Linked DNA regions of Homo sapiens. The protein of the gene in region 1 interacts with the protein of each later gene in a pairwise test. Each region holds a gene or a part of one and is shown in the gene's direction. Other genes may lie near its edges.

Region 1 (3,500 bases):
TAATTTTATACATTTTTAATAGTTTTATGCATGAAATGAAGTTGTGACTGTGACCTGTCACATAAGGTCAGGTGTGGAATTTTCTACTTGTGGTGTCAAGTTGGTGCTCAAAAAGTTTTGGATTTTGGAGCATTTTGGATTTCAAATATTCATATTAGGAACGTTCAACCCGTACCAGCTTTATTTTGGTTAGGTTAGCATTTCCTTTACTTTTCTATTTTTTGTTATTTAACAAAATCTTTTTAGCGTAAAATGAAATTTTTGTTATAAATCACATACCAAATGTATAGCTTAATAAATTATTACAGGACCATACCATTCAGGTATGCCAGATCCCCTCCATTACCCTATCCCAGTCAAAACTCCTGTGTTCCCATTTAGTCACCATTCTTCTGGGTTTTATAGTTTTGTAGTAATCACTTCCCTGTTTTTTTTTTATTATTTATTTATGAGATAGAGTCTCATTCTGTTGTCCAGGCTGGAGTGCAGTGGCACGATCTCAGCTGTCTGCAACCTCTGTCTCCTGGGTTCAAGTGATTCTCCTGCCTCAGCCTCCTAAGTAGCTGGGATTATAGGCACACACCACCAGGATCGGCTATTTTTTTTTTTTTTTTAGTATTTTTAGTAGAAACGGGGTATCACCATGTTGGCCAAGCTGCACTGTGAGCCTGGCCTCCTAGTTTTTGATAGCTTCCTTGTTATATAATATATTGAACAATTCCTATCGCAGATATGAAATCAGCCATTTCTTTAAAATGCCCGGGTTTCATTTAGAGGGAAATAATATTTCAGTTACAGTCTGAATGCTAAAGATCCTGAGTTAGTCACTGTTTCAGGCATTTCAGTAGACAGAGCTAGGATACCTGTATCTGTCTATAGACACACATGTTAAAAGATACCTAATGTATTCTACTTCCAGTCTTCAGATTGAGATTACAGAGCTTTTACTTAACAACTTCTCTATCACAACTGTAACTCCTTTTTTCCATACTGAGAATCATGATTCTCAAGAATATAGGAGAAAATAGAATATTCCATATTTACTCATTATTCTGTATTATACATATGACAGTATCAGAACTATATTTCTGAAATCACCATCAATATGATTACTGAAAACATTAAACCTTTTTTTTTTGGCTTATGTTCTTCTCATTTTTTCTTCTCTCTCTGTTTTAACAGTTATGCTCTATCTGCATTGTCAGAGTATATAGCCATTTCATGTTCTGCTTTTTCCCTCTTAGCCTATTAGTTCTATTAATATATTTAATGTTTACCACCAGTGTTTATGCTGAGGTCTCTCTAGGCATTTTGGCTACCTGAAGCTAATACATTGTTAGATTCCTCGGGAAGTAATATTGTCTGAGTTCTTATATATTGATCAAAGTTTATTCTTTTTATACTTCAAAGTCAATTTTGCAGATATAAAGTCTTTGGCTCACACTTCTTTTCCGTGAATTTCTTAAATACATTACTCCTTTTTCTTCTGGAATAAAGTATTGGTATCAAAGTCAGATTATTATCTAATTTTTCTTCTTCTTATAAGTCATGTGGGTTTTTTTCTTGTAGATAACCAAATAATTTGTTTTCTTTTTTTCTTTTTGAGATACAGTCTTACTCTGTCACCCTGGCTGTAGTGCAGTGGTATGATCTTGGCTCACTGCAGCCTCCACCTCCTGGGTTCAAGCAGTCCTCCCACCTCAGCCTCCTGAGTAGCTAGGACTACAGGTGTATGCTGCCACACCCAGCTAATTTTTTTTTTTTTTTTTCTTGAGAGACAGGGTTTTGCCAAGTTGCCCAGGCTGGTCATGAACCCAGGCTCAAGTGATCCACCTGCCTCAGGCTTCCAAAGTGCTGAGATTACAGGCATGAGCCACTACGCCCAGCCAAATTTTTTCTTTTTCATTAAAGTCTGCTAATAATATTAGAATATATCACTGTGTTGGTTGTTTTGGGTCAGTATTCTCAGGTACTTCATATTTTCTTTCCATTTGTAGTTTCAAATCTTTTTTTAAATTTCAGGAAAACTTTATTTTTAAAACAGCTTTATTGATATATTTAATATACAATAAGCTGCACATATGTAGTATAAGTTTTGACTTACATATACACCTATGAAACCACCCCAATCAGGATTGTCAATATATCCATCATCCCCCCAAATTCCCTTGTTCTCGTTAGTAGTCTCTGTGTCTAGCCTCCAATTCTCTCAGCAACCACTGATCTGCTTTCTATCACCACAGTTGGTTTTCATTTTCTAGAGTTTTATATAAATGGAATGTTATAGTATGTACTATTTTATGGCTGGCTTTCAGCGTAATTATTTTGACATTTATCCATGTTGCACATATTCTTTTTTATTGCTGAGGGGTATTCCATCCAATGGGTATACCACAGTTTGTGTGTCTGTTCACCTGCTGCTGGACATTTGAGTTGTTTCCAGTTTCTGGCTATTATAGATAAAGCTCTTACGAACATTTGTGTACAGTCTTTGTGTGGACATAATGCTTTCATTTCTCTTGGGTAAATTCTAGGAATGGCATGACTGGGTCTTATGGTAAGTGCTTATTAACCTTTTAAGAAATAGCCAAAGTGATTTACAAAGTGGTTGTACTAGTTTAAATTCCCGTCGGCAGTATATGAGAGTTCTAGTTCCCTCACATCCTCGAAAACACTTGGTCTAGTCATTCTTAGCCATTCTAATATGTGTAGTGGTGTCACATCGTGTGTTTTAATTTGCATTTCCCTCCTGACTAACAATGTTTAGCATCTTTTTGTGTGCCTAGCTGCCATCTGTATGTCTTCTTTTGTGAAATGTCTATTGAAATTTTTTGACCATTTTTAAGTTCAGTTGTTTACTTCTTGTTGATGTTAACTTCCTTACTAAGTTTTGAGAGTTCCCTATATATTCTGGATATGAACCTTTTCTGATTCCTGACTATTTTCTCTGAGTATGTGGTTTCTCTTTTCATTCTCAGAATGTTATATTTTAAAGAGCAGACATTATTTTTATGAAGCCCCATTTGTTCTTGAATTGTATCATGCTTTTGGTGTCATATCATAGACATGTTTGCCTAACTCAAGGCCATACAGTTTTTCTGTGTTTTTCTAGACATGTTGTGATTTTAAGTTTTAGATTTATGTCATTCATTTTAATTTTTTTGTATATGGTGTGAGATATGGCTGAAAGTCCTGTTTCTTTCTCTTTTTTTTGTACATGGGCATCCCATTGTTCTAGCATCATTTATTGAAAAAAAAAAACTATCGTTTTTCCTGCTAAATTACCTTCGTATCTTTGGTGAAAATTAGTTGTCCATATATGTATGAGTCTGTTTCTGGAATCTATTTAGTTTCATTAATCTGTTTGTCTATCTTGATATCAATGCTATATTGTCTTGATTACTATAGCTTTATAAACCTTGAAATGATATAGTATTAGTCCTTCAACTTTGTTCTTCTTTTTCATTCATTCATTTATTAATTTAGAGATAGGGTCTTGC
Region 2 (3,500 bases), on another chromosome or scaffold:
TTCATGCCGCTACTCACATGATTTATATTTTTCAGATTTTGGAAGATGGCAAAGTTCATGACACCCGTGATCCAGGACAACCCCTCAGGCTGGGGTCCCTGTGCGGTTCCCGAGCAGTTTCGGGATATGCCCTACCAGCCGTTCAGCAAAGGAGATCGGCTAGGAAAGGTACATGCCTGTCAGCAGGAGTCTGAATCTTTGCAGCTGTGGCTGCTACTCTCGAGTCCCTGTTTAGATTTTATTGTCTCAAAATCTTAACTCCTGAATTTCTTATAGGGATGCCAGCTGAGAAAGGTTATCTCTGGGTGTAGTCATAGAAGAGCTGGGCACTTACAGAGGTGTTGTGAACAAATTCTGAGACTCTTCCACGCTGTCCTCTCGCGCTCAGGGATTTCTGGTTCTGCAGAAACTTGCCTGGTTGACCTGTGCATTCTCTGTCTTTTCTTGTTCTTCGTAGGTTGCAGACTGGACAGGAGCCACATACCAAGATAAGAGGTACACAAGTAAGTGTTTCTGCAACTGAATGCCCCAATCAGGGCCTTGGGAAAGTTGTTCTTTATTCTAATGACCTTCTTCTGAAAGCTTTTTAGAATGGGAAGAAACTGCCAACAATAATTCATAACTTTTAGGGATGTATTCTGGGCTTTAACAATAACCACATTTTTGGAAATAGCCCTCAAAACTTAGACCATTCATTAAAGAGGTCTAGCCTATTAAAATGGGGTTTTGGGCCCTTTTAAAAACCTGTTGAAAACATTAGCTGGGCGTGGTGGCGTGCACCTGTAATCCCAGCTACTCGGGTGGCTGAGGCAGGACAATCACTTGAACCCAGAAGTTAGAGGTTGCAGTGAGCAGAGATCATGCTATTGTACTCCAGCCTGGTGACAGAGCCAGATCCTGTCTCCAAAAAAAAAAAAAAAAAAAAAAGTAAAACCCCTGGTTTTAAGATCCTGGTACCATAAAAAGGCTTTTTCTCTCTGCCACTTCAGATAGTTGGAGGTGGCTGCCTGGAGAACTAAGTTAGGATAGCTGAGGCTGAGATTGGCAAGAAAGTATATCGTGATCTATTAGACATACCTGCCATGGGCCCCTGATAATGGAGATGGTGGTTAGCAATAAATACCTCAGATTCTCACACAATAACGCAGAGAGTGAAATGGGTTAGTTTGAGTCCTTCAGATTCTTGGCTTAGAAAGTTCTTTAGGCCAGAGTTGTTCAAAATTGAATGTGCATATGAATCATCCGGGGATCTTGTTAAAATGCTGGTTCTGATTCAGTGGGTATGGGGTGGGACTGTGAGTCTGTGTGTCTAACAAGCTTTCAGCCAATGCTACAGGTCTCAAGACCACACTTGAAATAGCAAGGCTTTAGACTGGTGCATATCTGGTAAAGTCTGTGGGTGCAGTTACTACATGCCATCACCTTTGCCTCCAGATAAGTACTCCTCTCAGTTTGGTGGTGGAAGTCAATATGCTTATTTCCATGAGGAGGATGAAAGTAGCTTCCAGCTGGTGGATACAGCGCGCACACAGAAGACGGCCTACCAGCGGAATCGAATGAGATTTGCCCAGGTAGGCCAAGAGCCAGCAACCACACCATCTTGGGGCTGTTACTGTTGGCCATCACCTGCTAAAAAATGCTACCTTGTGACTCCTAATGAGAGAGGGAAGCATATTATAGGTCTTTTCGTGAATCTCGGGTCACCGTTCCATAACAAGTGGTACCAAGGTGAACTTGCACTAGGATCAGGGATGCATTTAAATAGTTTATATTTCTGTTTGCCAGTAGCTAGGACATCAGACTTGTATGCTAAAAACATTTGTGCTGGATAAGAAGGTGCACCTGTGCCTGTTACCACACTTAATTGCTGTGTGCAGACTTTATTAAGTAGATGGTCCAGTCAGATTGCCTATTATTATTTAAAGAGGCAAACTCAGAAAATCTAATGAGACCCAGTAAACATACTTCAATGAAAAATATATCATGGGAGTATAGGTCTAAGCAAAGTCCAAGCACTTACCCCCTAACACCCCCAAGCTGTTGATGCCGTAGAGTGAAAGCACAGAGTAAGATGTGAAACTTGGGATTTGGCATCCTAAATTTACTCCAAAGACCTCCCACTTGTTCTGCCTATTGTGAGCCAAATCTCCAAGATTTTAACATGGATGTTTCTTGCTGATGCCCAGAGGAACCTCCGCAGAGACAAAGATCGTCGGAACATGTTGCAGTTCAACCTGCAGATCCTGCCTAAGAGTGCCAAACAGAAAGAGAGGTGAGATTTTCATCCTGCTGGAACAAGACACCCTTCCCAGACTGGCCGTATTTGGAAACCACAGGACCAAAGCAGGAGGATGGTTGTATTCCCCACCACTGCAAAAAAGGAAAATACTTTCTACAACCAGTTAAGCCCCCTTTTAGCTTGTCGTTCTCAGGCTGGTTCATGGCAGATAGCATGGGCAGGAAACTAACTCCTTGTGCTGGTCATGCGCACTAAAGGGAAACACAGGCAGGCAAGAAGAGGCTCTGGAGCTTACCTGGGCTCAGTTCTGCTGTGGGTCAACTCTAGGAAGCCCCCTGTATGCTGGTCCTTTGAGCCTCCTGGTGTTGTGTGGTCCAGCGGCCACTACACCCCAGATTGGAACTATCAGTGAACAGTCACTATAGATGAAGTAAAATCATCTGGTCAGTATTTGGAGGCAGTGTACCTTTTCTAACACCTCCAGTATGCACCGTCTGGGTCTCTTCCTTTCTCTAAGCCCATTTTTCGTAGTTTAAAGGAGTTAGTGGTGATGGTAAGGTTTAGCTGAAGAGAATGGCAGCGTGTGCCTTTTGAAGAAGCCACTGGTTTAAAGGTCTGCACTGAGATCATATGTCTGTCTTTCCAGAGAACGCATTCGACTGCAGAAAAAGTTCCAGAAACAATTTGGGGTTAGGCAGAAATGGGATCAGAAATCACAGGTAATGTATTTATACCAGAATTCTGCCTTGGAATTTGGTTCTGTTTATTTGGTTGTCTTTATTAATAGCTTAGATGAGATATACTTCACATACCGTACAATTTAGTGGTTTTTAATATATTTGAAGAGTTCTGTAACTGGTCAATTTCAGACCATTTTCATCACCCTCAAAAGAATCCCTTACCCTTTAGCAGTCACCCTGTCTTGATCTGTTTTCCGTTGCTAGAACAGAATACCTGAGAGTGGGTAAGTTATAAAGCGGTTTCTTTAGCTCATGGTTCTGGGGACTGGGAAGTCCCAGATCAGGAGCCACATCTGGTGAGGGCCTCATGCTGCTTGATAGCATGGCAGAAAAAGCAGAAGCGGGAGCAGGGTGCAACAGAGAAAAGGGCTAAACTTTGGGTAGTTAGCCCATTCCTGAGAGAAGGGCATGAGGCATTTATTCCTTTTAACGACCTAATCTCTTAAAGGCCCTACCTCCCGACACTGCCGCAGTAGCAACCAGATTGCCAAATGAATTCCAGGAGGCACACCCAAACACCA
Region 3 (3,032 bases), on another chromosome or scaffold:
AAGACCCCTGTCCTAAAGAATGAAATACGGGTTATGAAAATTTTCATTCTAGTTTAGGCGCACACCTATAATCCTAGCACTTTGGGAAGCTAAGGTGGGAGGATCACTTGAGGACAGGAGTTTGAGACCAGCCTGGGCAACATAGCAAGTCTCACCTCTACAAAAAATAAATACATAAATAAAATTTTATTTTGACATTTACTTTTGTTTTTCTAATTGTATCTCACAAGTATTTTGGTCTAAAAATATATATAATTACATGAATCTGGCTCTGTTAAAAAAGATTGCTGGCCAGGAACCTTGGCTCACACCTGCAATCCCAGCATTTTGGGAGGCTGAGGCGGGTGGATCACAAGATCAGGAGATCGAGACCATCCTGGCTAACATGGTGAAACCCTGTCTCTACTAAAAATACAAAAAAATTAGCCAGACATAGTGGCGGGCACCTGTAGTCCCAGCTACTCGGGAGGCTGAGGCAGGAAATGGCATGAACCCGGGAGGTGGAGCTTGCAGTGAGCCGAGATCCAGCACTGCACTCCTGCCTGGGCGACAGAGGGAGACTCCATCTCAAAAAAAAAAAAAAAAAAAAAAAAAAAGATTGCTGAATTTTGATTCAGTTATAATTTAATAAGTATACTTCACCCTCTTATTTTATGCCCAAAATGACAATTCAGTAAGTAATTCCATTGTGTAAAAAACTTTACATAAATACATGTTTATGTTTGGAGACTCAGGAAACAATGATGGAAGCATTATCTAGGAAATATAGAGAAGGCCAGGATATAAAAACATTGGCCATGTGTGGTGGCTCACACTTGTAATCCCAACACTTTGGGAAGCTGAGGTGAGCAGATTGCTTGAGCTTAGGAGTTCAGGACCAGGCTGGGCAACATGGTCAAACCCCGTCTCTACAAAAAATACAAAAGTTAGGCATGGTGGTGCGTGTTGTAGTCCCAGCTACTCCAGAGGTTGAGGTGGGAGGATTGCTTGAGGCTGGGAGGCAGAGGTTGCGGTAAGCCAAGATCATGCCACTGCACTCCAGCCTGGGTAACAGTGAGACCCTATCTCAAAAAGAAAAAAAAAAGTTAAATTTACAGGACAGTGGTGATAGAATTAATTGTTTTTTTCTTGTTGTTGTTGTTGTTGTTGTTTTTATTTTGAGACAGAGTCTTGCTCTGTCGCCCAAACTGGAGTGCAATGGTGCGATCTCAGCTCACTGCAACCTCTGCCTCCCAGGTTCAAGAGATTCTCCTGCCTCAGTCTCCTGGGTAGCTGGGAGTACAGGCATGCACCACCAAGCCTGGCTAATTTTTGTGTTTTTTTTAGTAGAGACAGGGTTTCACCATGTTGGCCAGGCTGGTCTCGAACTCCTGACCTCAAATGATCTGCCTGCCTCGGCCTCCCAAACTGCTGGGATTACAGGTGTGAGCCACCGCACCTGGCCTAATTGTGTAATTTAAAAACCTGATTTAGTATGCATGTTGTTTGACAGAATAATAGCAGCAAGCTATTTGTCCCTTTCATTCAAATTTACCAGACTTTATAACTAATGTGAGTGAGCATAGTTTTGAAGTATTACATTTCTGGTCTTTAAAGAGTAAATAACTCGGCCAGGCAGGGTGGCTCACACCTGTAATCCCCAGGACTTTGGGAGGCCAAGGTGGGCGGATCATGAGGTCAGGAGTTTGAGACCAGCCTGGCCAGTATGATAAAACCCTGTCTCTACTAAAAATGTAAAAATTAGCCGGGCTTGGTGACACACACCTGTAGTCCCAGCTACTCAGGAGGCTGAGGCAGAAGAATTCCTTGAACCCAGGAGGCGGAGGTTGCAGTGAGCCAAGATCGCGCCACTGCACCAGCCTGGACAGCAGAACAAGACTTTGTCTCAAAAAAAAAAAAAAAAAAGTAAATAACGGGACATGCAGAAAAAGAAATAGTTATTTTAAATTAAAGGGCTGCTTTTGAAAAATTATGAAATGGCTATTTGTATGATTCTGAGAACTCAAACTACAAATTAGGGCTATTGTGCTATTAGCTTTGTTCTGTTGTTCAGGAGGTAGTGATACAGCTATATCAGCCTAAGTTCCAGACTAAAAAAATTTAATCATCTTAACTACTAACCTACCTGACTTTTATACACGTGCTAAGATGCATTGTCTTGCTTAAATGCTGGTTAAGTTGACTGCATGTACCGTATACAGCCTACAATGGCAGACTTTCCACTTGCTTATAATAAGAAATACTGTACTCTGTATGTGATAAAAACACAGAATCTTTCTCCAGAGTAAAATGATTTGGGGGATAGTAGAAGGGCTTGTCTGAGCTGTGTATAATCACTCTATTAACAGGAGCTTTTTTCCCCCTCGTGTTTATCAGCATTGGAGAAACCAATGTAGAAAGAAAGGCCAAGAAAAAAAGGTATGTGTGGTTTTAGCAGTGTTTTATAGATAACATGTAATACTAATTGGCGGGATGGGAAAGGTGATTTTAAAACAATAGCTATGCCAGATGCAGTGGCTCATGCCTATAATCCCAGCACTTTGGGAGGCCAAGGTGGGTGGATCACCTGAGGTCAGGAGTTGGAGACCAGCCTGTCCAACATGGTGAAACCGTGTCTCTACTAAAAATAGAAAAATTAGCTGGGTGTGGTGGCACATGCCTGTAATCCCAGCTACTTGAGAGGCTGAGGCAGGAGAATTGCTTGAACCTGGGAGGCAGAGGTTGCCATGAGCCAAGATCATGCCATTACACTCCAGCCTGGGCAACAGAGCGAAACTCTGTCTCAAAAAAAAATAGCTATAAGATTTGGATCTGAAGCCTCTTACTGCAATTTATAATTAAATAATCATCCTATTTTCTGATAAGTTCCTTTTTTTAACCTGTCTGGAAATGCATTGCTTCCATTTCTCCTTTTACTCCAACTTTCTAGAGTCCTTGTACGTGGAAACAATAAATAATTGTCTTCTCTTGGCTTAGAATAGGAAGTGTTAATAGACTGGTAAGAAATTGTTGGCCAGCCATATCTGGTCTGA
Region 4 (4,092 bases), on another chromosome or scaffold:
CAAAAAATTAGCTAGGCGTGGTGGCAGGCACCTGTAATCCCAGCTACTAGGGAGGCTGAGGCAGGAGAATCGCTTGAACCTGGGAGGCGGAGGTTGCAGTGAGCCGAGATCATGCCATTGCACTCCAGCCTGGGCAACAAGAGTGAAATTCCGTCTCAAAAACAAACAAAAAATGCCACCGATATATGAATTTGGGCATTACATTTCCAACATGTGAAATTTGAGGGACACATTCAAACCATAGCAGAGGATCAAGTAAGTTAATAAACTGCAACACCGGTACCTGTGCATACTAAGTGCCATATACACGTTAATCATTATCATCATCCTTTCCTTGGAAATCACTGAGGCCAAAGGAGTGGGTGAGACCACCCAGAAACGGAGAGGGCTGAAGACAGAGTCTCAAGAAGCCATCATCTCAGGCTCTTGTGCGGAGAAGTAACAAAGAAACCAGCCGGGGGAGTGGGCAGCACTGCTCTGAGGTCACCGAAAGGAGAAAGATGAGCTGGAGAGAGCTTTATAATGGCTGCATTTGTTTGGATGCTAAGGAGAAGAGAGGCAGGCATTCCGCTGGAGAGAGGGAGGGATGCGTGGGGCAAGGCGGGGGCGGGGAGCCGGTGTAGACGGGTGGAGGGCAGACCGGTACTCTGGTCTATCCCCGCTTCCGGGACGCGTTTTCTAGGGAGGGCGGAGCGTGGATGGCGAGTATGGGGAACTCAGAGAGGGACAGTGTCTTGTCACAGGAAGGGAGGGTCAGGAGGGAAATTTGAAAGAAAACGTCTCTGGGAACCCAGGGCTCTGCACTGCCAGTCCCTGGCTCCTTCTGACAAAACCACTGAGCAAGAAGGAAAAGCCAGACCCCTTGGCAGGATGAGAGGGGTCTCTGCCCGCTGCCGGGCCTGGGGCCTGGGGCCTGAGCCAGGAGGCCTAGGTCCCAGGACCTCCGCCTCCACCCCATGGGTCAGAGCAGCCTGAACCCTGTGCGCGCTCCAGGGAGGGGACCCGGTGTGCGATGCGCGGGGGCTGGGCTAGCAAGGGCAGTGGCGCGAGCGGGACGCAGGATACAAAGCCCGGAGCCACGAGGCTGGCGGCGGGGCGGGGGCCGGAGCGATGAATGGGCACGGCCGGGCCAATCCAAGCGCAGCATTTGCAGCCGCGAGAGAGGGAGCCAATCGGATCCCCGGGGCGGTGGCGGTGGCGGGGGCGGGGACGGAACCAATCAGCTGTGAGGACGGGGCCGGGGGCGGAGCCGCGCAGAGTTTCAAATCGGCTGCGGTGGGCGAGGAGCAGCTGTGCTGCGGCTGTGCTCGGCCTTAGTGGTGTCGGGTGAGTGCGGGCTGGGCACAAGTTTCGCCCTTGTTGCCCAGGCTGGAGTGCAATGGCGCGATCTGGACTCAAAACAATTTTTTTGTTCGGAGGGGAGGGCATCAGGTTCTGTTCACAGGGGAGGGCATCAGGTTCGGACACGCACGGCCTGTGGGGTCGTCTGGGTACCACAAGAAGTCGGATCGAAATCGGGGCGTCTGGTGGGAAGGCCGGGGTCTGGGCGGGTGCGCGTTTGGTCTGGGCGAGCTGGTGAAGAAGATGGTGATCGTGTCCTGGGCCCAGCGCTGAAGCTCGGCTACGGCGTGTCTTGACCCTGCCTCCCCTCCTCGCCTGAGCCAGAGAGAGGAAGGAGGTTGGGATGAAAAGACAGCTGTTTTGGAAACTTGAAGGGCGGGACATCAGAAATGCTGCTGACCCGAGGCCCCTCTTCCAGGAAGCATCCTCCTTCCTGCACCCACACTTACCAACTCGCCCGCCCCCGCCACCCCGCTGCATCCCGTCTCTTCCCCTGTGTCCAGGGTCTCTGTGGGGCCTGGGAATGGGTATGGGGAATGCCTTGCTGATCTGCCTTTCGCCCTCCTCCCCAGGGTCTAGTGGACAGAGAAGACTCTTGGCCAGGCAGATGGCTTCTCGGTGGCAGAACATGGGGACCTCCGTGCGCCGGAGATCTCTCCAGCACCAGGAGCAGCTGGAGGACAGCAAGGAGCTGCAGCCTGTGGTCAGCCATCAGGAGACCTCTGTAGGGGCCCTGGGGTCCCTGTGCAGACAGTTCCAAAGGAGGCTGCCCCTGAGAGCCGTCAACCTCAACCTCCGCGCAGGGCCCTCCTGGAAACGCCTGGAAACCCCAGAGCCAGGTCAGCAGGGCCTCCAGGCTGCAGCTCGCTCAGCTAAGAGTGCTTTGGGTGCCGTGTCCCAGGTAATACTGACAACACTAATCATCTTTTTTATGGAGTGTTTCCTTGGTGCCAGGCAGTTCCTGCCCTCAAAGAGCCTCAAGAATATAGACTTCATGAAAACAGGGACGTTGGTTAGTTCACTGCTGTTTCCCCACCACCCCAGATAGTTCCTGGCACATATAGGTGCTCAACAAATAGTTGAATGAGTGAATGAAAGCATGTCTTGGAGGAAACAGATGCTCACAATACCAGGTGATAAGAGCTGTACGTGATAGGAAATTGCAAAGCAAGTGACCAATAGTGAGGCTCACCAAATGCAAGCTTAGTCGGTGAAGGCTTCCCAGAGGAGGTGATTCCAGAGTTCACCCAGGGAAGCAAAGGTCAAGGGGTATTTAGGGTAGGGGAAATAGTGCAAGTCCAGGCCTAGAGCTGAGGGAAAGCAAGGTGTACTGCCCACTCAGCTGTGTATCCCTGAGGAGAGCCAGAATTGTAGTCTGGGTATGAACAGATGACAGAGAGCAAGGTAGAGCAGGGGGAAAGGATATGAAGGAGCTTAGAACTCTCCCAGGAATGATCAGGAGTCCGGAAGATTCTAAACAGTGGAAAGTCTGGTCTAATTAGCATATTAGAATTTGCCCTTTAGCTACATGATGGAGAAGGGAATAGAGGCAGAGATGCTCCTGATGGAGACTAAGGGTTTGGACTTGCAGGGGATAAACTTCAGGAGCTGCCGAGAAGGTCCAGTTAGAGGGGATTTGCTGTCAAATGAGAGCTGCTGTCAGGAAGACGTCCTTATATTGGATGTAAGTGTCTGTGGACCCTTCAAGGGATGCATCTTTAAACCCAGAGCTGGAGGTGTAGACGTGTCACTTAGAAAGGACAGAAGCCATTAGGATGAACAGACCTCCAGGGAGAGGATTGGGGGCTGCAGAGGCTTCTCCTCGGTGTCTCATTGGGAATTCTGAAGATGAAAGAATTCTCCAGAAAGTGGGTGGCTCTTTCTGGACCCTCTGCAGAGAGCTCTCTGAGCCAAATGTTAGTCCTTATTTGGAAGCACTTTTTGATTGTTTTCACCACCCTCAGGGATCAGAGAAATGAAATGAATTTGTCCAAGGTCACATAACTCATCAAATTTAACTTGGGCTTCGCTCCAAACACTGGGCTCTGGCTTGTCAAGGCAAAGACAGTCTAGCTGATGAAGAAGAGCCTTCACGGCTGTCACCCGGCTGGTGTGAAAGGCCCAAGAGTTGGGGCTTGGTCCTATGGGCAACAAGAAGCCACAGAAGAGTTTTGAGCAGTTGAGTGTCACGGTCAGAACTGCCCTTTAGAAGGATCACTATGGACCACTGTGGAGGGTGGATAGAGTGAGTGAGACCCGAGGCAAGAAGACAGGTGCTCTCTTGGTGTACAGGGGGTGCTGGGCGGGGTGGCCTGTTCTTTTGGGGCCCTCTCCTTCAGTCCTGGGGTCACCGTCTGTCTGGAAAGAGAGTTTGGACTTAGACAAACAGGCTCCAGGCACCAGGGGGGTCCTCCTGCGGCTGACTGCTGCTGTCATATCCAAGAGCTCTGAGCTGGGTCCCAGCCGTGGACTCATTCCATGAGGAGTCATTCACATCCTTCACCCTGGAGACTAACAATAGCCTGTATTTACAGGACACTTGCTGAGTGTAGGGGTTGCTTGTATGGTCTGGAGACCAAGGTAGCTCACCCTTGGTTTTTTTTTTTGTTGTTGTTTGTTTGTTTTCGAGACAGGGTCTCACTCTGTCGCCCAGGCTGGAGTGCCATGGTGCGATCTCGGCTCACTGCAACCTCCGCCTCCCGGGTTCAAGCGACTCTCATGCCTCAGCCACCCAAGTAGCTGGGATTACAG
Region 5 (3,500 bases), on another chromosome or scaffold:
CCCCAGGTTCAAGTGATTCTCCTGCCTCAGCCTCCCAAGTAGCTGGGGTTACAGGCGCATGCCACCACGCCCAGCTAATTTTTGTAATTTTTAGTAGAGACAGGGTTTCACCATATTGGCCAGGCTGGTCTCAAACTCCTGACCTTAGGTGATCCACCTGCCTCAGCCTCCCAAAGTGCTGGGATTACAGGTGTGAGCCACCGCACCCAGCCAATATGAGCTTTATTATAGATGGGAGAAGTAGGGCAACCCATAGCCAAACCCAGCTGGAGAAGCTTTGAAATAGCTGTGCCAGAAAGGAATCTTCAGGAACTCCTTTTTGAGGGCCCTCTAATACTTTGATGTCTTCTTTTATCTTTTCTAAAGTTTTTTGCTACCTGACCTGAGGTATTGATGTAAGAGCAACAAGTTTCATTTAACAGCATGCAGGTGCCTCCTGCCTCAGCGTTAAGCACATCCACAGCACATCAGTTTTGCAAGACAACCCCTGCCAATGAATTTAGGACCTGTTATTGGGCCTTGATGGCCATGACTTTAGCTTCTCAAGATTGCTGGACTAAGATGGTGATATTACAAATGCTGCACTCAAGCATGGGTATACCTGCAAACCAAAAGACTGCATGGGCAACAGAATGTCCTAGACCATTCCTCTCTATAATGAGATCATCAGTGGTGAGGATGCCAAATGATGGAAGGTTGATTAAATCCCGTTTCTGTTTCCTTTCTTCTGATGGCCTTTGAAGGGCCCAACTTAGGAAGGATCACAAATTTGGAACTTGGCCAGAGGTTATAAAGTCTAAGGAGTTATATATATGTACTCCAGGTATTGCTGCAACTATAGTGCACGTCCTCTCCATTTAATAGGCAAGGCTGGAAAAATGTTGGATCCACACAAAAAGAAGAGCCCAGTTCCTTTTAAAGAAACTCCTGAGGAGGGACCTTGTAACCAGGCATAGGTGTGGTTAGTTTGGATTCCAGTATAATTTGCATAAATAGAGGGATCCCATGGTCCCCAGGGATCAAATGTGGCTGGGTGGTGACCTAGAAAGTAGTCATTCATGCATAAGGGAGGAAAGTTTTACTTGTGTTATATGAATGTGGGGCCTGGCAGATAAGAGTTTTAAACATTAATGAGATAACGGAAAATCAAGAGAAAGTTGTAGATGTATTAGTGAGGTTGAGAAGTTGTCCAATCTCAACCCCTATTCCTATATATTCTATCCCAGTAGCTGAACTGTTTATAGGCATAAAAGGATCACTATAAATTTTGCTGGCATTAACTTTGTTGTTTCCCCACCATAGAGAAAACCTGCAGAGGTACACAGTGAACTTGTCATTGTTGTCATATAGCTTCCATTCCTGGTGTGTTTGATTATAGTTGAGGGTGTAATTACAATGGGCTTATGTTAAACACCCTAGGAAAGGGCCAGACCCTTTGGAGTTTCTGATGCAGAGGTGAGCCTTACAAGTGCCTATAAAAGGGCCAGATCCCTCGGATTTTCTGATGCAGAGGTGAACCTTACAGGCCATCTCTGGTGCCTTCCCAATCTGCTCCGTCACAGTGGATGATTGCCATGAGGAATCAATTGGCCTAGGCTCCCCTCCTAAACCTGTGTTTTTGGTGTGTGTGTAAATGGTGTAGTTGAATCCAGAGTATCAGGCTTGTTAGTAATTTCTTCTATGGATAGCGGGACTGCTAGGATATAATGTTATCTTTGAGTGCCTGTCCGCATGGGCATATCCAGAAGTTAGTGCTGTGTGTTATGTTAGCAACCTGAAATATTACTGGGAGGAGTAAGTGCCTGGCTCCAGCCATGGAGGCAATAGCCGTGATAGAATAAAAACAAAGCCATTTTTAAGGAAAATGACAATATGTAGTAAACTCAGGGAGACAGGCGAGAAGAAGGGCTGTAAAGAATATGAGAAAAACAGTTAACCAAACACCTAGTACCTTAGCACACTGATGTGGTGTGGGGGTAAATGACATTACTAGGACAAATATACAAAAAAATTCATCTGGGTGGTAATCTTGGAAGTCCGCTTGCAAATAGCAGTCGTAAACTACCTCCCTTATAAAAGCATCAATATTAAGAGGGTGACGCTGCTTAAGTGAGGCAGTTGGATAATTACTGAAAGCCTGTAGTAGAATTGGATAAAAAGAGTCAGCCTTAAGAGTAAGGTCTAAAGGAGGTGTTGGATTTATTTATTTATTTTTTATTTTTAAGGGAGGTTTAAAAATTCTGGGTTGTTTGAACAAAACCTCTTTTACCTTTTTTTCTTTAACTTTAAATGAGTTTTCGATGTTTGCATTCTAATTAGACCACAAAGAATGAGTTTTATCTCAGCACCAGGACCTTAGTAACAGCAGATTTAAAGCAGGCAGAAAAAAAGGAAGATAGAGAGCTATAGAAGACTTCACTTAACTTTATAGTGCAGGTTAACCATTTGAGCTCTGACTTTTTCTTGTTGTAGTTTGCCCGTTAGTTTAAAATGTACCATAATATGTAACCAGCTGGAGTTTTAAAGAGAATGACAAAATCAGGGGTTAGGATGTTAGAAACTGTCTTTCCCTTTTAAGGCTGGACCCCTGGATTGAACAGAAAAAGAGAAAAAGAAAAGGAAGGAATGGAGAGGAAAAGGTCAGGCTTTACAGGAGGGCTTGTGAGCCTTCCAGCCACTGCACAGTGCAAGGTCAGTACCCCTGCCACTTTTGTTTATCTCCCGCCAGGGAGAGCATTAGCACCCCAGACCTACAAGGTGTGGGATAAATTCTTCCCAACTTTGCAAGTTATCAGTTAAGGTGAGCTGTTTCCAGACAGAGCAGAGAGCCTATTTAGCATAAGGCCATTAGGGGTTGAGATTCTGTCCTGGGGGCCCTTTGATCATCAGGGCAGTCTTTTTTCCAGTGGCTGAGCTTGTGGCAGAGAGAGTAAGCCAGGCAGGGCTTTTAAAATTTATTCCACTGGGGCACTCTGCCTTTCAGTAACCTGGCGTTTTGCACTGATGGCAGTTATCTGAAGGAATGTATTTTTAGGGAAACCTGGAGGGGCTGGGGCTTGTAAAGCAGCCAACAGTTGAGCCTGTCTCTTGCCTCTGCATTTTTCTTTCTTCTTAGCCCTGTCCTCCTTATTCTGCTGTCAGTTGTAAAGGACTCAGGAGGCTAATTTGATGGTTTTCTACATAGGGGCCATGCTGTGTTACACAATAAATTAGACATTTCTTTTTGAGGGTTTGAGAGTTAAATTTGTCTTAATGTTTTAGGATACAACCCAGAAGTGAGTCTGAAGGAATAGATGGGGTTTGTCCCATGGTGGGACTAGAAAACATGCTGCTTGGGGATGGTGCAACTCAGGGGCACAAACTGCACTTTCTCTCAGGATGTCCAGCCGAGATGAAAAGCAGTTCCACTTAGGTCTACTGAGGAACTTGGGGTGCACTTTCTAAAGGGGTGTCCCACCTATTAAGAAAGTCCCCTCGGCCACTCAGGGGCCTTATGCTGG
Region 6 (3,500 bases), on another chromosome or scaffold:
ATAAAAATATGAAATGTTAGCCTGGGGAATGAGAAAATCACTGCCTTGGGTTCTTCATGGAATGGCTCATTCATTTGACATTATGGAGCCAGGTGTTGGGTGTGCACCTGTAGTCCCAGCCACCCAGGGAGGTTGAGGTAGGAGGATCACTTGAGTCCCAAGAGTTCAAGGCTGCAGTGGTCACTACTGCACTCCATCCTGGGCCAACAGTGAGACCCTGTCTCAAAAAATAAAATAAAATGATGAAAAATATATTTATTTAGAGTTTTTTTTCAGGAATTCCTCATAAAAATAAGATGCTTTTTTTTCTTTATTGTGGACAATACAAGGGAAGAGAAGAATAAGTGATTTTTTAAAATGCCATCTTATATGTTTCCATTTTGATTTAATTACTTGATCTTTAAGTGATGATTTCTTTTTCAGTCTGAAGTTGACAAGCAGCAGCATAGACCCTGGTCTGAGTATCAAGCAGTTGGGTGGTTTGTATATTAATTTTAATGCAGATAAACTACAGTCTAACAAGAGAACCCTAACACAGATCAAGGAGAAAAAGAAAAATGAGGTAAGTTAATTGTGCTGTTAGGTTTTCACAGAACTAACCAATCACTTTTAGAAATTAGTCCTTGGTAAAAGACTTAATTTTCCTACAGTGAAACCACATTGGCCTAATGTGTTAGTTTTTTCCTTCTCTCTAAAACAGTCATTTCTTTTTACAATAAAATCCTATCTATGAATGATAATGCTTTAAAAATAAATCAATACAGGGTCAGTGTTCCTCATCTTACACCCACCAATTATGATCCCAGGGGTTTTGTTTTTTTCCCTTTTCTTGCTATACTTTTAGTTCTTAAGTTCTTAACTAGTGTAGACTGTTGAGAATCTGAAAGCTGTGAATGCCTGCCTGCCTCTTCCACCCGGAAAAAAATGCACATGTGCATATAGACATTTTACATATAATTTCAGAAGGAATTACTGTTAAGGTAACTTTACCCAAACCCTTAGCTTTAGCCAACACCTTGCACTGTTTTCTCCTAAATCTATATTTTCTAGCCTTGATGCTTCTCACTGTCACTTTCAGACCTTTAAATCCAAGTACCTATTTGTTCATTTAGATGTCCTCAGGTACTTGACGTCACTAATTCCCCTTTCCCTGCCTGAACCAGGAATCCTCTTCTTGTATTCTTTTTTCTGGCTAATGAAACCAAACTCTCTTTTCCTTTTGTAGTCAGTCACCAAGCCTCTAGGGGAAGATATTTCTCTGCTTCCTCCTTTTCAAGCGACTGTCACCAGCTAGTGCAGGCCTTTGCTTCTCATCTGGACTACTCCAGTGGCTTCCTTATTGATCTTGTTTTCATCTTGTTCTTCAAGCCATCCTCCACACTTCTAGATTTCTCTGTCTAAAAACACAAATCCGGCTGGGCAAGGTAGCTCACATCTATAATCCCAGCACTTTGGGAGGCTGAGGCAGGAGAATTGTTTAAGCCCAGGAGTTTGAGACCAACCTGGGCAACATAGCTAGACCACATCTCTCCTCCCTGCCCCAAAAAACACACCACACACACAGATGTGACAGTATTCTCTTGAATCCTTCAAAGTACCTCTCTACCCCACCCAGCTGTCATCTGCTCTATTCTTGCCACTGAAGACTACTGTAGTTGCCTGAACTTACCCTGCTTTTCCCCAAGCAAGTGCAAAATAATTGATCGTTGCCCTTGGGGAATATTTTACCTCCAGTCCTTCTCACAACCCCTCTGTTTCCATAACATCTAGCATAGATCTGATTCATTGTTGATCATGTGATATATTAACTTACCATCTTTTCTTTATATTCCTAAAACAGGGTTTTTCAGTCTCAGCACTACTGATGTTTTGGGCTGCATAATTTTGTTGTGAGATGTTCCGTGCATAGTAGGATGTTTAACAGCATCCCTATCTTTTGCCCACTAGATGTCAGTAGCATTCTTCCTTATCCTCACCACCACCAAAAATGTCTCCAGACATTGCCAGATGCTCCCAGTTGAGAACCACTGTCCTTGAATGTACTACAGTACTTGACTCACAGCAAACTCTTAATCATTTGTTAAGTAAATATCATGCCCCCTTTTATGAGTGATAGGAAAGCCTAGACGGCTACCTATACCACACAGAAACATCTAGGCCTGAACCTGAATTGTGTGCCTGACTGTTAATTTCTGAGTTGATCATTTCAAATGTCAGTCCCAAATTAATGCTTGTACTATATTCCTGTAAACTATTTTGAGGGCTACAGAGCAGTCTTACTTGGTTCTTGTACTGAGAAAAATACTAATTAACCTGAGGTTCCTTTAGTCACACAGAGTTTTAGGAGAATATAATCATCCTAGTCAAGTAACAAAAGTACAGAAATCATTTAGGAAAAGATAAACAGATTTGACTGCACAAATTTATTTATTTATTTTGGAGAAATGGCGTTTTCTTATGTTACCCAGGCTAGTCTTGAACTCCTGGCCTCAAGTGATTGTCCTGCCTTGGCCTCCTAAAGAGTTGGGATTATAGGCATGAGCCATCGTGCCTGGCCTTTTTTTTCTTTTTTCTTTTTTTTTTTGGGAGGGAGCTGGGTTTGGGGGGAGACAGGGTCTCACTCTGTCACCCAGGCTGGAGTGAGTGGCACAGTCATAGCTTGCTGCAGCCTCAAGCTCCTGGCCTCAAGTGATCCTTCTGCCTTAGCGTCCTGAGTAGCTGGGACTACAGGTGTGTGCCACCATGCCCAACTAATTTCTTTTCTTTTTTTTTTTTTTTTTACAGTCAGGGTCTTGCTATGTTGACCAAGGTGGTCTAAAACTCCTGGCCTCAAGTGATCCTCCTCCCTTGGCCTCCTCAAAGCACTAGGATTATAGGTGTGAGCCACTTTGCCAGGCTGACTAAAAATTTTAAAACTTACAGAAGTTTAAACTGTTGAAAAACTTATATAACATTCTGACATTATTTTAAAACCAATTTTATGTTTTTATAGCTTCTGCAGAAAGCCGTCATTACACCTGATTTTGAAAAAAACCACTGTGTTCCACCATATAGTGAATCAAAGTATCAACTTCAGAAAAAACGCAGAGTAAGTACAGTGACTTAATTAAAATGCTTAGATATGTTTGGCTATATATTTTCAGCTTATACAACATAACTGCACAATTAAACTGTATCTGTTGGTCTATATATGAGTCCAAAGAAAATAATTACAGATTTCTAAGGGCTGTAAAATATAGTACCATAAACACATTATGTATAGATTTTCACATCTTTGCAGCCACAATAGTGCATCTATAAGTAGAGGTTTTTTAAAAAAATATATATATATATAGATTACTTCTATCTGCCATTTCGACTAGTTATCCAGAGAGCTTGAAGGAAAGTTGAGGATGGTATTCTAGTAATGTTACTGTAATATGGAGCACCCTGGCACATGGTAGGCACTAACTAAATACTTGTTGTATGAATGAAACAAAATTAAATAACTTGTAGGAGTT
Region 7 (3,500 bases), on another chromosome or scaffold:
TTTTTGTTCAGTTTATTCCCTTTTATTTGTGCTCAACTGGTCTGGAGTTTATATGGTTTTGTGTCATTCTTCTAACTTTAAAAATATTCTCTTTCTTAGCAAATACTAAACTTAATCAGCATGTGTTCTTATTCTGAAGAATATTGAGACTAAAAAAAATCTGAAAGAAGATGGGGCCAGGTGCGGTGGCTCATGCCTGTAATCCCAGCACTTGGGGAGGCCTAGGCGGGTGGATCACCTGAAGTCAGGAGTTTGAGACCAGCCTGGCCAGCATGATGAAACCCCGTCTGTACTAAAAACACAAAAATTAGCCAGACGTGGTGGTGCGTACCTGTAATCCCAGCTACTCAGGAGGCTGAGGTGGGAGAATCGCTTGAACCTGGGAGGCAGAGGTTGCAGTGAGCTGAGATTGTGCCATTGCACTCCAGCCTGGGTGACAAGAGCGAAACTCTCTCTCTAAAAAAAAAAAAAAAAAAAAAGATGTACCTTTAAAAAAAAAAAAAAAAAAGCTATGTTTTTATAGGTCTACTTTTTATTATAACCACCCTCAAAATTTGTCATTATAGTTCTTTGGCTTTTTTTAAACAAAGATTATTATATTACCAATATAGTCACAAATGTTTTCTTACCATTGCTTTTTGCAGTCCATCTTTTAGGGTTCACATGGTTATAAATTCTCTTCATTTTTTTTTTCAGCTAAAATATTGTTTCTTTCTCATGTAAATAATCATCTAGTTGAACATAGAATTCAGGTTGACAGTTTCTTTATTTTGGAGGTAATATTCATTTGTTTTAAATCTCCATTCTGTTACCCTATTTCTGTCAATCTAATTGTTATTTCTTTTAGGTCAACTATATTTTCTTTCTAGGAGCTTTAAGGTTGTTGTTTCCAGTTCTTTATGTTCGTTTAGTCTTTTGCATTTCTGAGTTTTATTGTGATTTGTTTAGGGTATGTTTATTTTTATTTATACTGTTTAGAATTTCTATATGCGAACTTGTATCTTTTACCAATTGTGTGAAATTCTCAGCAATTGCATCTTGAAATTAAAACCTCTCAGTCATTCCCTCCATCCTGCCTTCTCTTCTCCCATTCCTGTTAGACAAATACGGAAGCCTCTCAATTTATCTTTCATGTTTCTTGATTTTTCGTTTGTGCTTTATCTTTCTCTTTGCTGTGTGTTTTTCTCTGTGCACATAAAATAAAAGAGATGTACCAATGATCGTTTCCAGGCTTCATGAAGTAAATTGACCCAGAATGATACGTTTTAGAAAACTGATAACAGTGTCAGTAAAATATTACTAGCTGGGCAACAAATTACTAAAAAGAAACCTTAAGTCAGATTTCGGCTTTTCAGAAATTAAAGGTGACTTTCATAGGAGAGCAATATTTGCAAGGCAAGTGTGTGATGCAAAGTATCATCTGCTTGTTTTTTTTTTTTTTTTTTTTTTGAGACAGAGTCTCACTGTGTCATCCAGGTTGGAGTTCATTGGCGTGATCTTGGCTCACTATAACCTCCACCTTCCAGGTTCTAGCAATTCTCATGCCTCAGCCTCCCAAGTAGCTGGGATTACAGACCCGCACCACCACGCCTGGCTGATTTTTTTTATTTTTGGTAGAGATGAGGTTTTGCCGTGTTGGCCAGGCTGGTCTCAAACTTCTGACCTTATGTGATCCTCCCTCCTTGGCCTCCTAAAGTGCTGGGATTACAAGCATGAGCCACTGTGCCAGGCCTGGCTAAACAGCAAGAAGCCATGAAGAAGCTTTTTTGTAACTATAAGAGAAAGGGACTCCTGGTTCTTAGAACTCTCCATCTACTTATTTAATCCTTGGAAAAACCCTATGAGGGAGGTACGATTTATGATTCTTACCATATCCTCATTGTACACATAACAGAAGTGAGGCACAGAGAGGGTTTTTAATATCCCCAAGGTTACACAGCTGGTAAGTATCATTTCTAGGAATTAAACCCAGATACTTGACTTGAGAGCCCTCATATGTTGTTACATTGCCTCTCGTTTCCTGCTGTCTCTGCCATCAGAAATCCTTGTAGCAAGGATGCTGCACTTGTGCAGACTGTTCACTGCCCAATGGCACTGAACTATCATGCCATTTAGTAGCTGGAATACAGTCCATGTTCTGCTTACCAAGCTGTATGTGGCTATACCTGTCTGAATGTAGGGCTATTTCTCTAATTTCCTCATATGTACACATGGGCTAACAGCAGGCTTGTGTCTCATGGCGTCTTTGGTCTCCCCCAGTTATGCCATCTCAGAACTATGACCTTCCCCAGAAGAAGCAGGAGAAAATGACCAAGTTTCAGGTACGTAAAGGATTCCTTGCTGTCTTTTAAAATGTGATTTATTTCTCAAAGATAACAGATTTATTTTTTCTCTTTCTTGGAAAGGTTAGTGGGAAACAGATATTCAGGACATGTGGTATGCTGACATGTATGTGTTTTTTTGTTTTAGTTTATCACCTTTACTATTTTACAAAACAGTGTTTGAAAAAATAATAGAAGCTTTAATCAGAAATAATCTATGCTACTACCCTGCTTATGAACTAGCTTTTTTCATTTTCCCATGTTCCTTTTTCATACACATTTTGCAATACTTGAGTAGATGAAATTTTCAATTGTGCATTCTCCACTTAATTGCATCACCTGCATTGTAAGTGAGTACATCATATGCCATTGAATTGCAGTGCCCTTAAAAGACAACAAAAACTATTTCTTATTTAGCCTTTCAGAAATTCAGAAATTTTAAGAATTTTACTACTTTAAAGTAAATCCAGTGACTTTTTTCCCTACATATAAAAACAATTCCTTCAAAAGAAATTCTGGTGGAATTCAATATTATTTGTCCTTAAAGTTTTAGGAACTCTGCATTGAAGAGGTTTATGTCTCAGTTTCATGTCAGTTCCCTCAGGTGTTTTGTAAACAGAACATCTAAAGAATGACATGGTGTAATTTTATTAGATGCTTTCAGAGAAGAAGAGCTATATATTTTTCCCGTTTATGTTTTTATCACTCATTTATTTCTTGTATGAATTTATTTCATCAAAGTAACTACATGTACGTAAGGTCTAGTAGTACTTAGATGTCTTGCTAGCCCTTTCCATCTGTCATTGCATTTTTCAGATGTGAGGATGGAGATGATTTATTTGCATTTTAAATATGAAGAAACAGGTTATGGGAACATTTTATAACTGCCCCAAATTTCCCAGGTAGCTGACTCATTGGACACTGAAGCTTCCAACTATTAGGAATATCTGGCATTCTATTTTCATGTAAAGGCAGACAGAACAAAAGAGTTTTCCATTCACAGAGATGAGCACATATGATAGAAGTACCTGATGTTACCTTTTTATTCTTTTGAGACAGAGTTTAATTCTTGTCACCCAGGCCGGAGTGCAATGGCATGTTCTTAGCTCACTGCAACCTCTGCCTCCCAGGTTCAAGCGATTCTCCTGCCTCAGCCTCCCAAGTAGCTGGGATTACAGG

Evidence for each region.
Region 2: the proteins of CEP70 (region 1) and EIF3D interact in binary tests that used the Homo sapiens proteins (3 or more experiments, as listed by UniProt).
Region 3: the proteins of CEP70 (region 1) and ZCCHC10 interact in binary tests that used the Homo sapiens proteins (3 or more experiments, as listed by UniProt).
Region 4: the proteins of CEP70 (region 1) and PIMREG interact in binary tests that used the Homo sapiens proteins (3 or more experiments, as listed by UniProt).
Region 5: the proteins of CEP70 (region 1) and CFAP53 interact in binary tests that used the Homo sapiens proteins (3 or more experiments, as listed by UniProt).
Region 6: the proteins of CEP70 (region 1) and DNTTIP2 interact in binary tests that used the Homo sapiens proteins (3 or more experiments, as listed by UniProt).
Region 7: the proteins of CEP70 (region 1) and ZNF227 interact in binary tests that used the Homo sapiens proteins (3 or more experiments, as listed by UniProt).

Annotation. Positions count from the first base shown.
Region 1 is NC_000003.12:138,587,761-138,591,260, reverse strand, and holds part of CEP70 (centrosomal protein of 70 kDa), read left to right. Parts: intron 1-3,500.
Region 2 is NC_000022.11:36,522,667-36,526,166, reverse strand, and holds part of EIF3D (eukaryotic translation initiation factor 3 subunit D), read left to right. Parts: intron 1-35; 5' UTR 36-45; coding exon 46-168; intron 169-457; coding exon 458-503; intron 504-1,434; coding exon 1,435-1,571; intron 1,572-2,186; coding exon 2,187-2,272; intron 2,273-2,885; coding exon 2,886-2,958; intron 2,959-3,500. UniProt on the Homo sapiens protein: mRNA cap-binding component of the eukaryotic translation initiation factor 3 (eIF-3) complex, a complex required for several steps in the initiation of protein synthesis of a specialized repertoire of mRNAs.
Region 3 is NC_000005.10:132,999,518-133,002,549, reverse strand, and holds part of ZCCHC10 (zinc finger CCHC domain-containing protein 10), read left to right. Parts: intron 1-2,130; exon of another isoform or gene 2,131-2,154; intron 2,155-2,348; coding exon of another isoform or gene 2,349-2,376; coding exon 2,377-2,418; intron 2,419-3,032.
Region 4 is NC_000017.11:6,443,163-6,447,254, forward strand, and holds the start of PIMREG (protein PIMREG), read left to right. Parts: upstream 1-1,292; 5' UTR 1,293-1,326; intron 1,327-1,913; 5' UTR 1,914-1,948; coding exon 1,949-2,242; intron 2,243-2,248; exon of another isoform or gene 2,249-2,869; coding exon of another isoform or gene 2,870-3,025; intron 3,026-4,092. UniProt on the Homo sapiens protein: During mitosis, may play a role in the control of metaphase-to-anaphase transition.
Region 5 is NC_000018.10:50,231,996-50,235,495, reverse strand, and holds part of CFAP53 (cilia- and flagella-associated protein 53), read left to right. Parts: intron 1-3,500. UniProt on the Homo sapiens protein: Microtubule inner protein (MIP) part of the dynein-decorated doublet microtubules (DMTs) in cilia axoneme, which is required for motile cilia beating.
Region 6 is NC_000001.11:93,872,707-93,876,206, reverse strand, and holds part of DNTTIP2 (deoxynucleotidyltransferase terminal-interacting protein 2), read left to right. Parts: intron 1-423; coding exon 424-562; intron 563-2,992; coding exon 2,993-3,088; intron 3,089-3,500. UniProt on the Homo sapiens protein: Regulates the transcriptional activity of DNTT and ESR1. May function as a chromatin remodeling protein. Part of the small subunit (SSU) processome, first precursor of the small eukaryotic ribosomal subunit.
Region 7 is NC_000019.10:44,215,532-44,219,031, forward strand, and holds part of ZNF227 (zinc finger protein 227), read left to right. Parts: intron 1-2,259; 5' UTR 2,260-2,261; coding exon 2,262-2,321; intron 2,322-3,500. UniProt on the Homo sapiens protein: May be involved in transcriptional regulation.